Homo sapiens: one gene and its partner. The protein of the gene in region 1 interacts with the protein of each later gene in a pairwise test. Each region holds a gene or a part of one and is shown in the gene's direction. Other genes may lie near its edges.

Region 1 (7,807 bases):
TCTAAAGGTAGACTAATTGAAGCTCCATTATCATGGCTATGCATATTGTGCTATTTGACTAGAGTGATAGGATTAGCAATTGTATAGAAGGGACGTGTGAAGAAATATTTTAGTTCAGGCAGCATCTATTGAACAACAGGTGTGTTCAAAAAACATTTTGATAGGAATGATGGTAGATATAAAGATAATCTCTTTGTGGTATAGAAGAAAAGAAAAGAGGCAGTGTGATAGATTGGGAAATGTTAATGTTAGACAAATAATTGATACATTTAACATGTAATAGCCTTTTATGAGTTAATAAGAGAAAGACATCCCCTGTAGTAAAAACAGATGCATATGACATGAACAGGCAATTCATGAAAGAAGAAATGCAATGAGTACAAAAAAATAGTGATAGAGGATGAATAAAATATAGTACTTGATAGCCGAACAGGGTGACTATAATAATTCAATTGTATATTTAAAAATAACTAAAAGAGTATAACTGGATTGTTTGCAACACAAAGAATAAATGCTTGAGGTGATGGATACCTCATTTACCCTAATGTGATTATTACACATTGTATGCCTGTATCAAAATAACTCAAATATCCCATAAATATATACCTACTACTAATATATACCCACAAAAATTAAAAATTAAAAAAAGAAGAAATGCAGCTGGGCATGGTGCCTCACACTTGTAATCCTAGCACTTTGGGAGGCCGAGGCAGGTGGATCACCTGAGGTCGGGAGTTCGAGACCAGCCTGGCCAACATGGTGAAACCCCGTCTCTACTAAAAATACAAAAATTAGCTGGGCGTGGTGGCACGTGCCTGTAATCCCAGCTACTTGGGAGGCTGAGGCAGGAGAGTCACTTGAACCTAAGGGGCGGAGGTTGCAGTGAGCTGAGATCGCACCACTTCACTCCAGCCTGGGCAAAAGAGTGAGACTCCGTCTCAAAACAAAAAAAAAGAAAAAAAAAAAAGAAATGCAAATGGCTGATAAATCCACCCTGTTAGTAATTTAAGGAATGCAAAGTAAAGCAATAATGAGACATCATTTTTTTCACCAATGACATGTCTAAGAATGATAATACTAAGTATATTGCTTGGAATATGGATAAATGGACATTGTGTTATGTTTCTGGTAGGAACATAATAGGCATAACCTTTTGTGGGATATGGCTATATATATGTTTTAAAAACCTTGAAAAATCTGTCTACCTAATAATTCTATTTCTAGATATTTATTTTTTATTTTTATGTTACTTTTTTCAATTAATACACAATAATTTTACATATTTATAGGATACATGTGATGTTTTGATACATACATACAATGTGTAATGATCAAATCAGGGTATTTGGGATATATATCATGTCAAACATTTATTATTTCTTTGTGTTAGGAGCACTTCAGATCTTCTAGCTATTTTGAAATATGCAATAAATTATTGTTAACTATAGCTACCTCACTGTGTTATTAAACATGAATAATGTATTCCTTCTATCTAACTGTATGTTTGTACCCATTAATCAACTTCTCTTCACCCCTCCTGCCCCTTCCCATCACTCTACTCTCTACCTCCAGGAGATCAACTTTTTTCCCCCTTTTTATTTAGAAATGGAGGTCTCATTATATTGCCCAGGCTGGCTTCTAATTTCTGGGCTCAAGTGATCCTCCTACCTCGGCTTCCTGAGTAGCTGGGAGTACAGGCTAGATGTTCCATCCATGTTGTTGTAAATGACAGGATTTCATTCTTTTTTTTTTTTTTCTCCCTAGACGGAGTCTCGCTCTGTTGCCCAAGCTGGAGTGCAGTGGTGAGATCTGGGTTCACCGCAACCTCCGCCTCCTGGGTTCAAGCGATTCTCCTGCCTCAGCCTCCGGAGCAGCTGGGAATACAGGTGCATGCCACCACGCCTGGCTAATTTTTTGTATTTTTTAGTAGAGACGGGGTTTCACCATGTTAGCCAGGATGGTCTCGATCTCCTGACCTGATCGGCCCGCCTCCACCTCCCAAAGTGCTGGGATTATAGGCATGAGCCATCGCGCCTGACCCATTCTTTTTTTTAATGGCTGAACGGTATTTCATTGTGTATATACACCACATTTTCTTTATCCAGTCATCCATTGACAGACACTTAGGTTGATTCCATATCTTGGCTATTGTGAATGCTGCTGCAATAAACATGGGGCTGTAGGTATCTCTTTGATATACTGATTTTTTTTCCTTTGGATAAATACCCAGTAGTGGGATTGCTGGATCATATGGTAGTTTTATTTTTAATTTTTTGAGAAGCCTCTGTACAGTTTTTCTTTCTTTTTTTGAGACAGGATCTCACTGTGTTGCCTAGGCTGTAGTGTAGTAGTAAGAACACTGTTTCTTGCAGGCTCACACTTTAGGGCTCAAGGGATCTTCCCACCTTGGTGTCACTGGGACTACAGGCACCCACCACCACACCCAGCTAATTTTTAAATTTTTCAGAGAAGAAGGATCTTGCTATGTTGCCCAGGCTGCCCTCAAACTCTTGGCCTCAAGTGATCCTCCTGCTTCAGCCTTCCAAAGTGCTGGAATTACAGCTATGAGCCAGCGTACCCAGCCCATACTGTTTTTCATAATGGCTGTACTAATTTACATTCCCACCAACAGTGTATAAGAGTCCTCTTTCTCGCCAGGCGTCGTGGCTCACGCCTGTAATCCCGGCACTTTGGGAGGCCGAGGCAGGTGGATCACCTGAGGTCAGGAGTTCGAGACCAGCTTGGCCAACATGGCAAAATCCCGTCTCTACTAAAAACAAAAAATTAGCTGGGCGTGGTGGCATGTGCCTGTAATCCCAGCTACTCAGGAGGCTGAGGCAGGAGAACTGCTTGAACCCGGGAGGCAGAGGTTGCAGTAAGCTGAGCTCGTGCCACTGCACTCCAGCCTGGGTGACAAGAGCGAAAATCTATCTAAAAAGAAAAAAAAAAAAAGAGGCCTCTTTTGCTACATCCTCACCAGCATTTGTTATTTTTTATCCGTTTGGTGATAGCTATTGTAACTGGGGTGAGATGGTATCTCATTGTGGTTTTTATTTGCATTTCCCTGATGATTAATGATGTTGAGCATTAAAAAAAATACCTTTTGGTCATTTGTATGTCTTCTTTTGAGAAATGTCTATTCAGATTCTTTGCCCACTTTTTAATGGAACTATTTGTTTCTTTGCTGTTGAGTTGTTTGAGTTTCTCATACATTCTAGATATTAGTCCCTTGTTGGATGACTAGTTGGCAAATATTTTCTCCCTTTATACAGGTTGTGTCTTTGTTGATTGTTTTAAAGAAATAATTATAGGCAGCAGTATGGATTTATGTGTAAGCAGGGTAATTACACTGTAGTTTATAATAGTGGAAAATTAGAAACAACCTAAATAGCCAATAATAGCCAATTTGTAAAATTGTGAAGCATCTACGTAATTATAGAAAATTATTTACATGGAAACATTTTTATTATACTTCATCACACTATTCAAAATAAATGTTTTATTTTCTTTGTTCTTTCATCCACCCATTTATTCTATCCGTTAACAGTTTATTCTATTCATTGCTCCTTGCTATTCCACTCCTTTGGGTTTATTTTCTTTATTGTTGAAATATTCCTTTAAGTACTTTTAATGAGGGGCTTGGTAATAAACTCTCTTAGTCCTTGTATGTCTGAAAATGATTATTTTGCTTTCATTTTAAATGATAATTTACCTGGGAATATACCAACTCTCTCAGCACTTTGAAGGTATTTCTGTCTTTTAATATCTTGCTTTTAAAAGCAATATATTATTGCTTTGTCAGTCTTTTATGTCTCATTTTTTTAATGATTCTTGTTCTTTAATGTTTTGCAATTTCCCTTCCATGTATTTAGGCAAATTTGGTTTCTTTTTAATGTATGCTACTTGAGGCTGATGTGCTTTTTCAGTTTGAGGTCTTACATTTTAATTATCAGTATATTCTCTTTGAATAATTCCTTCTTACTGTTTTCTTTGTTCTTTCTTTCTGGGACTTCTACTTGTTATTAAGCTTCTGATTTTATCCTTTATGTCTTTTATCTTCTTTTTTATACTTTTCATCTTTTTATTCCTCTGTGTTCTGAGTGATTTCTTCCAATCAATAATTGTTTCTTATCTATATAATTTACTGTTTAACACATCTTTTGAGATTTTCATTTCTAGAAGTTTTACTTGTTTTATATTCAGGCTGGCCTCTTACTGTTTCATAATATCTATTTTTTTAAAAGATTCTGTTCCTTTTTGGAATAGAATGTTTTTGGATATTTAAAAATATACTTACTTTAGTTTCTTTTTAAAATTATTTTATTATCTTTCGTCCATTAGGTATGAATTTTCCTGTTTTGTTGGGTCTGTGGATGGTCTCTTTTGGTAATGAATTTCTCCATATGTCCCCAGTTTCCATTCACTGTTGCACCTGTTTTACCCTCTTTGTTTTTGTACCTGGAGATTTTCCTTTTTGACTTTTGAGCCTTGTATCAAACATAAAAACCAAGTTACTAATGGGTAGGTATTGGAGGCAGTCTATATAACCAACACATCAAGATTTTCAACTGTGAAAGAAAGGGGATAAATATTTAATGTTTTGGGGATGATAGATCTCTGAGAATCCCTTGAAACAATGGACTCTATTCTCCAAAATAAACTATATTCACTTTTTTTTTCTTTTTTTTTTTTTGTAGAGATGGGATTTTGGCATGTTGCCCAGGCTGGCCATGAACTCCTGGGCTCAAGTGGTCCTCCCGCCTTGGCCTCCCAAAGTGCTGGTATTACAGACATGAGCCACCGTACCCGGCCCCTTCATTCACAATTTTTCATAAAGATTCAGTGGCTCCACAAAGTCTGTATGTGAATTCCTATCTTTATAGACCCTGGACTAAGACAGCATAACTCAGCAGTATTAACATACTCAACTTAAAATTTTTTAAACATGGGTGAGGTTGTGGCTAATGAAATGGCATGAAAGCATGGTGTACAATGGTGGCTTTCAAGCTTGGTTAAGCTGTGAAGCCCATTATTTATATAAGCTCTGATAAGCTCCAATTCATAAAATAGTTGTAAGTAAAGTTTCTACAACTGAAGTAGGGAGTGGAGTCCTGGAACCTACTCACCTCTAGCCCCTACGCTTGTACTCTGGCCCCAAATGCATACCCTTGGACTTTCTGGAACACTAGTAGGAAACTACTGGTGAAGTGGAAAAAGTATTTCAATGTAATTTCAGAAAATCTGGGTTCTTATTCCAGCTCTGTCACTGGTTTTTTGAATCAGTTGTAGGCAATACTAATCACTTTATTGAAAATGGAAGAGGCAGTTTAAAGCACATCAATGAGAAAAGTTGCATATTATGTTATCATATATTTGAAGTTGTGTAATTACAAAGTTACATTATGATGACATTAGACATGAAGTTTGATACAAGCATCAGTGTTAAGCCATTTGATACCTTTTTTAAAAAGGTTATTCAATGTCCAAGATAGATCAGAAAATGAAAACTTGGACAGTATACTCCTAGCTTTTTTAAAAGTATTTATATACATACATACCTACTTACATAGAAAAAGACCTGGAGAGACGTATGCCAAAATGTAAAGAGTACATTTTGTACTCTTTGTAAAAGGTGAGGAGATGACTGCTGACTTTATTTAATTCTTCATTTATTTATATTGTCTGAACATTCTAAAATATAATTTTTGTAAAGAGAAAAAGATTTAAAAATCAGTGGTTTCATAAAGAAAAAAACAAGTCACTCAAGGTCAGCATTAGAAATATTCTATTTATTGATTTAGAATAAATTGTAAAACTAATCGTTGGCTTTTAAAAATAGTGGAAACAGATTTGAAAACATTCTTAAAGAAATATTTTTCTTTTAGGTTTTTCTATATGAGTGGAGAAGACAGCTGTTACCAGGGAGGTCATACAACATTTTTTTAGGATGTCTGAAGATGAAGAAAAAGTGAAATTACGCCGTCTTGAACCAGCTATCCAGAAATTCATTAAGATAGTAATCCCAACAGACCTGGAAAGGTTAAGAAAGCACCAGATAAATATTGAGAAGGTGAGCTGTTTCATTTACTACCACAAGAAATAGTTACATAGTTTGATTTATATTGGTTGTTCATTTCAGCTAAATTTAGAATATTAGATAAGAGGCATTGCTGAAACACCTAGCTCCTATTGATTTAGCAACATTATGCATTTTTTAGCTGGTTTTTCTGTTCTGCATATATACCTCTCATATATTCCTTTTTCTGGGAAGGGATATAGGAATAGAGTCTATGCTTTTTTGTTTGTTTGTTTGTTTGAGAGACAAGGTCTTGCTCTGTTGCCCAGGCTGGAGTGCAGTGGCATGATCATAGCCTACTGCAACCTCAAACTTCTGGGCTCAAGCTATCTACACACCACTATCCGTGGCTAACTTATTTTTATTTTTTTGGAGAAACAAGTTCTTGCTTTGTTGCCCAGGCTGGTCTTGAACTCCTGGCCTCAAGCTGTCCTCCTGTTTTGCCTTCCAAAGTGTTGGGATTACAGGTGTGAGCCGTGGCGCCTGGCCAAGTCTATACCTTTTTAATTGTACATATTGAGGTTTTAGGCAGTTAATAATTAAGATACAAATTGATTGATGGTGCACTATAATGTAAAGGCAGAGAACTTTGGCTAATGTACCTGCCTTAATTTCATTCACCCCATGGCAAGTTTTTGAACTTTGAGTGTGTGTCTTTCAGTAACTCGTATTCTCTTTAGGTATACATACATTAAAGAAGTAAATCATTGTGAGATATGAGGGAATTTCCTTACTTCACAGCTTCCCTTTGAGGAAAGCTCACAATTGAGAAGTACTGCCTAATTCAGTTGAGGAAATAGGTAAGGAGAAGATGAATTAGTCTCAGGGACTATGATAGAGGTTGCATAGAACCTACCATGCTCCGGTGAAGTGGCTGTGGCATTTTTGGAAACATCAAGTTTACTCAGTACTGAGCATTAATTTGGCAGATTATGTTGTCTTATTTGCTGTGGGACAGGCCAGTGATATTTTTTGTTTCAAAAAGACTTTTCCCAGCATAAGTCTTAAGCTGCAGAACCTCCATTTATTTATTTATTTATTTATTTATTTATTTATTTATTTATTCATTCATTCATTCATTCATTCATTCATTCATTCTTTTGAAGGTTGGGAGTGGAGGATATGGTCATTAAGCCTTTCAATATAAACATTATTCATTACTCAACTCAGTAGCATATAGAAGTCAGAAAAGTGTACCTTTTTCTTCCATAGATACCATCTGTCTTTCTAGAATTCAAGTCCTTTTAAAAGTGGAGAAAATCAGTTCTGAGAATATTAAAATGAAAAGTTTAATGCGAATATTTGAAGTCTTTCTAGAATTTAGGATTAGTATTTTGTCATCCTTGAATTTCTTCTTTACTTACAAGCAATAAGTAATACTGTGACTTTTAAGGATGGATAAGGAGTTGTTTAGTAAATGGGTTCTTTTTAACATGAATGGAAGCAAATTAAGGCCATTTCTTTCCTTTGTTGTCCTACTTTTCCTTTGAGGTTTGGCATGTCTGTCTTAGATTTCCTTTTTCTTATGTTTATTCTATACAAAAATGCCTGCTGTCAGTACCCTCAGATCCTTGCTACATGTACCACCCAATCAGTCATCAATGGAAAAGCCAGGTGGGTGGGGATAGAATGGTTATATTACTGATTTTATTAGTTGTGCCAGAAGTCACAAGAAGATTATTCCAGAGTTACATCCATCCATCTCTGCCAGACATTTTTTTCTTTAGCATT
Region 2 (7,807 bases), on another chromosome or scaffold:
GGCAGTATGCAATCTTTGTATTAGTGTATTTTCAGAAACATCAATTAGATGTTTAACTTGTTTCCTTTTTTAAATGCTTCACAGATAATTTACTAGATTATTTTTAACAAACAATTCAAAGCTTGAATTAGTGAAACTTCAAAAACAGATTGTGGTATACAAATTATACACATTTCTAATAAAGTACATTAAAGCAAAAATTAATTTGATTTTAATACATTTCATAAAGATGATAGAATTGTTCAGTATTAATATATGATAAATATTTTATGTAAATAATGATATAAAAGTGGCCATAAGCAAGGGTTTTCCTGTCACTATACAAAACTAAACCTGACAATTCAAATTCGAATATCACTTGAAAAGCTCTTAAGAGGAAATAATAAATTCTTTACCTTGTTGAACTTCAAAAAATTAACATTTGGGGCTCAAGAGACTCTCCAAATTGGCTGTGTGACCTTGGATAAGTAACTTAATCTCAAAATCTCTCATATCAAAACTGGGGGATTAGTTTAAGTGATTTGGAAAATCCCATTCAGTTTTAAAATCCTGTGGTTCTCTAATTTTTTTCTTTAGCTTTGTTTTCCGGAAAGTTCGAAGCTTGCTAGGGGGAAATATTCGTCTCCTGTTGTGTGGTGGCGCTCCACTTTCTGCAACCACGCAGCGATTCATGAACATCTGTTTCTGCTGTCCTGTTGGTCAGGGATACGGGCTCACTGAATCTGCTGGGGCTGGAACAATTTCCGAAGGTAGTGTTCTCCATGGTCAGAGGCTGGAGTGTGATGCCAGACGTTTTTTTGGGGTATGGGATATTTTCTGCAAATATATAGGAGAAGAGTAGTAAGGTGTTTGTGAGGCAGAATAATGGTGGATTCCAAGTACTATGATCATTGATATCAATTTTTAGAATGTATTAGATGCATCTGGAGTCAATAATTTATCTGGAGAAGTTTTTATATCAAACTGATAGGTAATATTAAAAACCACTTAGCATTTTGGAAGAGAAACTTTAGTAACAAACACTGACTGTTTTGTGTACATTTATTTTCTCACATCAGTGATTAAATTTCTTTTTATGTAGAAAACTTAAGGTGCTTTTGTTTATTTGTGTAGGTGAGTATATTAAGGCTCAGGTTCAGAAATGTTTATGAGGATTTCTGTAAGTGTTAGAGAAGGAACTAAGTTCTGGTCTAGGGAATATTATTACCAGAGTTTATCATGTGGTTGTGTTTGAGGAGGAGATCTACCAACTAATCAGCAGTTCTGAGATGAATCGCATAGGGCCTCATGCGTCCCTTTTATGGGAGAAAGTTATTTTGCTTTCCGGTACAGGATACAGCTGTGCTTCTCCTACTTTGTATTTGCCATATACGGATAGATACAAAACCTCATGACTGATTTTTCCCTATTTATTTTGAGTGGCTCTGTATACCATTTTCATGTATTACTTCATTTTTCTGTTTTTCAGTTATGTTCTCTGTTTTCGTATATTTTTGGAAGCTAGTTCTAAGTCATGTTTTGTAGGAAATAAGCAATCTTAAATACATGCATAGGGGATTTCTTTCTTCTGAGGATCCTTAATTTCTTCTATTTTTAAGATTCAAATTGAATGATTAATCAGTAACAGTTTATGTTTTAAATAAAAGTCTTTAAAATGTTAAATATCAGCCTTTCATTTCTGATATTTGGTCTTTGAAGAGGAAACATAATGCAATAGTAATTCATAATAGTGGAGGGTTCTTTCCTCACATCCTTGAAAGCCACCAGTCTTATTCTTCAGCCTGGCTCTTGAGCTATTGCTGTATTAATTTTAAATAGGGTGTGATAGCATAAGCTGATGGAAGCCTGCAGAGATCTCACTTTGAAATGGTGATACATTACATGGGAAAAGATTAGAGAGGTGTTTTATACTGCACATCGGTGAGGCCTAATAAGAAAGTAGAATAGACGTAAACCATTGTTTTCATCATCCTTTAAGACAGGGATTTCAAACTCAAGAACCAGGCAGCTACCTATTTAAATGAGTCAAGTGGGCCCTAATGTAAGACAATGTGATGGGTAAGGATTGATTCTGAGGGAACAGGAGCAGGCATGCCCTCTCTAACAGAGGCCGTCAGTTCTGCTGTACCTGAAATGTGGGCCCATTGTTGCTGGCGATTCCACACTTACATCTAAAATTTCCTGATTTTTTAAGAATGACAATAACTAATTTAAAAAAAAAAAAAAAACCTCAATGTAGGCCAAAAAATACGACTCTACAGGCCTCACGGCCTGTGCTTCACCAATATGTGACTTCTGCTTTTAAGGAATAGCTGGGGATACCTCAGCCTTAGGATAAATAATCATTTTTGGTAATTTAGAAAAATGAAGCAGTGTATTAGCTACTGTTCTCAAATATCCTTTTTTTCATTTAATTCCTAGTGTGGGACTACAATACTGGCAGAGTGGGAGCACCATTAGTTTGCTGTGAAATCAAATTAAAAAACTGGGAGGAAGGTAATAAACTATTTTAACCACAGAGCATTAATTTTTAAAGTATTAAACTTGAAAATTAGTGCTTCACTTTCTTGCTTTAGAATGTAAACACCCATAAGTGCTCATTTTTGTCCTTTGTGATAGACGTGTTTTATCTCGAACTATATGAATGCATTTATTTTTCTTGTTTCAAAGATGTTTCTGAAGAACTATTATTGTTTTCATTTTACTTATTACGTAGATGCAAGTAAGAATTATGGCAAAAACTTGAGAAATGTACTAATAAGTGAATAATGTCAATAAATTAGGAGTGATCATAACTTTATTTTGCAGAAGTAAAATTATAAAATTTATTTTATGAAATTGTGGATTTTTAAATGATTTTTTTCTTTTTTTTTCTGAGGGCTTCAACCTTGTATTATTAGAAGGAAATTTTCACTGCAATTCCATAGAAGTCTGTTTATTCTCATGCCATTTAAAATAATGGTCACTTAAAAATTTATTTGATCCTGTTAAAATATACAAATTATCTGTGTTTTATTGGGATGCACCTTTCCTCTACATTAAGTAAAGATAAAGATTCTGGCCGGGCGCAGTGGCTCACTCCTGTAATCCCAGCACTTTGGGAGGCCAAGACGGGCGGATCATGGGGTCAGGAGTTCGAGACCAGCCTGACCAACATGGTGAAACCGTCTCTACTAAAAATACAAAAATTAGCCAGGCGTGGTGGTGCGTGCCTGTAATTCCAGCTACTCGGGAGGCTGAGGCAGGAGAATCACTTGAACCCGGGAGGTGGAGGTTGCAGTGAGCCAAGATTGCGCCACTGCACTCTAGCCTGGGTGACAGAGCGAAACTCTCATCTCCAAAATAAATAAATAAAGAAAGATTCTAAGGCTTGGATGTCTTTTAGCTATCTTTAGCAGAATTAGTGGGAATATTTAATAAATTTAGGCTTGGAGTCATTTTGAAATTATCTATAAGAATAAATCTTAATATGTAGTAACTCACTTTTTTTTTTTTTTTTTTTTTGACACGGAGTTTTGCTCTTGTTGCCCAGGCTGGAGTGCAGTGTCAATGGTTTCGGCTCACTGCAACCTCCACCTCCTGGGTTCAAGTGATTCTCCTGCCTCAGCCTCCCTAATAGCTGGGATTTCAGGTGTGCGCCACCATGCCCGACTAATTTTTTGTATTTTTAGTAGAGGTGGGGTTTCACCATGTTGGCCAGGCTGACCTCAAACTCCTGACCTCAGGCGATCCACCCTCCTTGGCCTCCCAAAGTGTTGTGATTACAGACATGAGCCACTGGCCCAGCAGTAACTCATTCTTATATAGGGATTTGTTCTATTAATTGCATGACTTAATACTTCTGTCAGTTTATCAATATGATATTTAAGATGTTGCAGAATCTTTCAAATAATTTGTCTCTTGTATTTATAATTTTATACAACAAATGGAAGATGTTGGGTTTTAGAGTTTAATTTTTTTCTCAGAATAGAAGTTTGAAAACATAAATACTTATGGTTTAGCAACTGAGATTTTGTGCCTACTGTTAAATTGATAAACTTTGTTCATTCATAGTGTCTGCCTTTTTTCCTTTGGGAAGTTCTAATTGGATTAAAATAAGATGACTGTTTAGAAACTAGTAGTTTCAAATTTTCATGTGTTGTATTTAACTCAACTATTAACTCAATTATTATTTTATTAGGTGGATACTTTAATACTGATAAGCCACACCCCAGGGGTGAAATTCTTATTGGGGGCCAAAGTGTGACAATGGGGTACTACAAAAATGAAGCAAAAACAAAAGCTGATTTCTTTGAAGATGAAAATGGACAAAGGTGGCTCTGTACTGGGGATATTGGAGAGTTTGAACCCGATGGATGCTTAAAGATTATTGGTAAGTCATCTAATATTTTTTTGAAAATGAATGTTTCTGAAATAGTTTACACAAGAAGCACAATATATTTAGAGGAGGCGCTGAATAATATAAATCTTTATGTAATCTTAGTTTGGGTTGTTGCATCACTCCTGGAATATAAAATATTACGGACTGTGGAATTTATGAGGCCTGACATGTTATGAGTTCTCAAAGATGGTTCAGCAGCAGTGGTATTTTAAATTACTCTTAGATAACCTTCAGTCATTGTTTCCTGCCTGTGTTTCTGACATCTAGAGATTAGTGGATGGAGCTCTCACAGTCTGAACTGCACCCTTGCCTTGCCCTGCCCAGGAGAATAGAGGAAAGCCAGGCAGCTCAAGTACTATGACTCATATGGGTTGAAAAATACCTTATTCTGCTTCTCCTTTTAGGTTCTTTTTTTTTAAAAGTTAATGGCATTTCAGTTAGCCGTGTGTGGTGTCTTTGTCGGGCACCTGTAATCCCAGCTACTTGGGAGGCCGAGGCAGGAGAATGGCATGAACCCGGGAGGCAGAGCTTGCAGCAAGCGGAGATCGCGACACTGCACTCCAACCTGGGCAACAGAGCAAGACTCTGTCTAAAAAAAAAAAAAAAGTTAATGGCATTTCTATCCCTGTCTTGCTAACTAGAAACCTGGGAGGAGACTCAAGACTGTTCTCTTCAGTCAGCTTCCCATGCCTATTTTATATCCCACTAGTTTATTTTATGAGCTATGTCTCAAAATCATACTCTTCTCTCTTTGTCTCTCTTACTTGATCATTGGTCAGGCCTGTACCTTCTGCCACCCTCTCCCAATAATTTCTCTGTTGCCATGTTTACCCCCTTAAACACACCCTCTCACTGCCACCATGTAATTACTAAACATGGATCTTACTGGCCACAACCATTTAATGTCTCCTAGAAGCTCAGTTCAGGGTGCCCCTGTTAACATTGTTCCCCTCTTCACCTTCATCGTCAGTTGTTTTCCTCCTCCTCCTTGATGCAGCTGAAATTAGAGCTGATGTTCTTCTGGCTTTTGCCAGTGTTGTTGCACCTGACCTCTCACTTTTCCCTTAGGACTCGGCTCAAGCAGCTGAGCATAGTGACTCAGGCCTGTAATCCCAGCTACTCGGGAGGCTGAGGTGGGAGTATCACAGGAGCCCAGGAGGCCGTGATTGTGCCACTGCACTCCAGTATGAGCAACAGAGTGAGACCCTGTCTCAAAATCTCAAAACCAACCAACCATCCAACCCTCAGCTCAGGCCTCACTTGCAAGAATTTTTTCCAAATCCCCAGGTTGGAGAGTCTTAACACTTAGCGCTACCATTGTAGTACCAATGTATTGAAGTAATACGTTTTTGCATTATGCATGTCTCCAGATAGGTTGTGAACTTGCAGATGGCATTGAATATCTTCTTCACCTGCCTGGTACTAATGGATACCAGAAATAAACCTGTTCAGAAGAACATACTTGAAGCCCTGCTAATGGAGTCCATTAAGTAGAAGTTAATTGTTTTTCTTTCTTTCTTTTTTTGAGATGTAGTCTTGCTCTGTCGCCCAGGCTGGAGTGCAGTGGCACCATCTCAGCTCACTGCAACCTCTGTCTCCTGGGTTCACGCAATTCTCCTGCCTCAGCCTCCTGAGTAGCTGGGATTACAGGTGTGCACCACCACGCCCAGCTAGTTTTCGTATTTTTAGTAGAGTCGGGGTTTCACCATGTTGGCCAGGCTGGTCTCGAACTCCTGACCTCAAGTGATGTGCCCGCCTCGGCCTCCCGAAGTGCTGGGATTACAGACATGAGCCACTGGACCTGGCCTGTTTTTCTTTTAAAAGCATGGGCCGGGCGCGGTGGCTCACGCCTGTAATCCCAGCACTTTGGGAGGCCGAGGCGGGTGGATCATGAGGTCAGGAGATCGAGACCATCCTGGCTAACAAGGTGAAACCCCGTCTCTACTAAAAATACAAAAAATTAGCCGGGCGCGGTGGCGGGCGCCTGTAGTCCCAGCTACTCGGGAGGCTGAGGCAGGAGAATGGCGTGAACCCGGGAAGCGGAGCTTGCAGTGAGCCGAGATTGCGCCACTGCAGTCCGCAGTCCAGCCTGGGCGACAGAGCGAGACTCCGTCTCAAAAAAAAAAAAAAAAAAAAAAAAGCATGTATTTAGCAGTACAAAAATTAGGGCCTAATTTTAATATGTGCTTTTAATTTCAGCATAACCATTAATGCTTAATTTTGCAAAGTTTTAAATAATTTGATAGCAAATTACTTAGAGAATGGCCAGTATTTATATATGTATTAAATGTTACTAATATTATTACTCATTGTTTTCCCCTCTCCACCTTTCTTTGTTTTGCAGATCGTAAAAAGGACCTTGTAAAACTACAGGCAGGGGAATATGTTTCTCTTGGGAAAGTAGAGGCAGCTTTGAAGAATCTTCCACTAGTAGATAACATTTGTGCATATGCAAACAGGTAAGAACGTGGAATTCATACTACTTTTACTTAAAATATTTGATGTCCATAGACATTTCCTACCTGTATGGACCTTCTTTGTAAAAATGTTCCGAGAACTCTTCCTATCTGTTACTTGTGGGAATGGCCTCCTTCTCATTGCAGCCATTAGCTGACTCTTTTCCTTGTAAGGCTTCCCCTGATCTTTCTCTCTGTCCCTGTTTTCTGCTTTACGTCTCACTGCAGTGTCCCATGGAGGGAGGTGAAGAAAATAAAACCTTCCTTCCTGCTGCCTTGGTACCCCTACCTACCTGTCCCTCAGCAGGGGAAGCTTCACAGAACTACTCCAGAGGAATGGGGAGTAAAGAAGTGGCAGTGAGGAGTGTGCTGCTTACTTACTCCTGCTCTACACTTGAGCCTGCTCGGCACTCCAGGCAGGTCTTGGGGCTCCTATGTAAGCTGTGTTAAGCTGCAGCCTAAACACACAGCCTCCCCACCTCATGATGATGAAGAGGCAGCTGGGGACCTGTCTACGACAGTTGACATGAATTATTATGGGAAAATAAAATCTGTTATCAGGAAAACTAATTTAGAAACAGATGTTGGGGGTACAGCCCAAGTTAGAAATGAATTGCATTTATTTATAAATGATTCTGGTCTTTAGCCATTTAGTATTTTCTTTAGTGATGATACAGATCTGGATTTATTCATGTGATAGTAACCAGAAGCATCTTCTTCCTGATGTTACTATTTTATGGCCTTCAAAAAAGTATTTGCCTTCGTTGGGCATAGTCAGAGTTCCTCTATCAATACAAATTCTGATGATAACAAAAGAAAAAAAAGAATATATTCACATCATTTTGATTCGTTGCTGAATTTTTAAGATAGTTTTTAATTTATGTTAAATTTTAGTTTTTTAAAACACATGCTATGAAATACTGATAGGGTTTAAAGGTGAATATTCTAATATTTGTAACTTTCTTTTAAA

The links. Proteins that work in one complex are often made in the same cells at the same time.
Region 2: the proteins of STX17 (region 1) and ACSL3 interact in binary tests that used the Homo sapiens proteins (3 or more experiments, as listed by UniProt).

What each region holds. Positions count from the first base shown.
Region 1 is NC_000009.12:99,909,293-99,917,099, forward strand, and holds part of STX17 (syntaxin-17), read left to right. Parts: intron 1-2,863; exon of another isoform or gene 2,864-4,859; intron 4,860-5,885; 5' UTR 5,886-5,947; coding exon 5,948-6,070; intron 6,071-7,807. UniProt on the Homo sapiens protein: SNAREs, soluble N-ethylmaleimide-sensitive factor-attachment protein receptors, are essential proteins for fusion of cellular membranes.
Region 2 is NC_000002.12:222,926,441-222,934,247, forward strand, and holds part of ACSL3 (fatty acid CoA ligase Acsl3), read left to right. Parts: intron 1-576; coding exon 577-749; intron 750-2,421; coding exon 2,422-2,496; intron 2,497-4,180; coding exon 4,181-4,372; intron 4,373-6,725; coding exon 6,726-6,840; intron 6,841-7,807. UniProt on the Homo sapiens protein: Acyl-CoA synthetases (ACSL) activates long-chain fatty acids for both synthesis of cellular lipids, and degradation via beta-oxidation.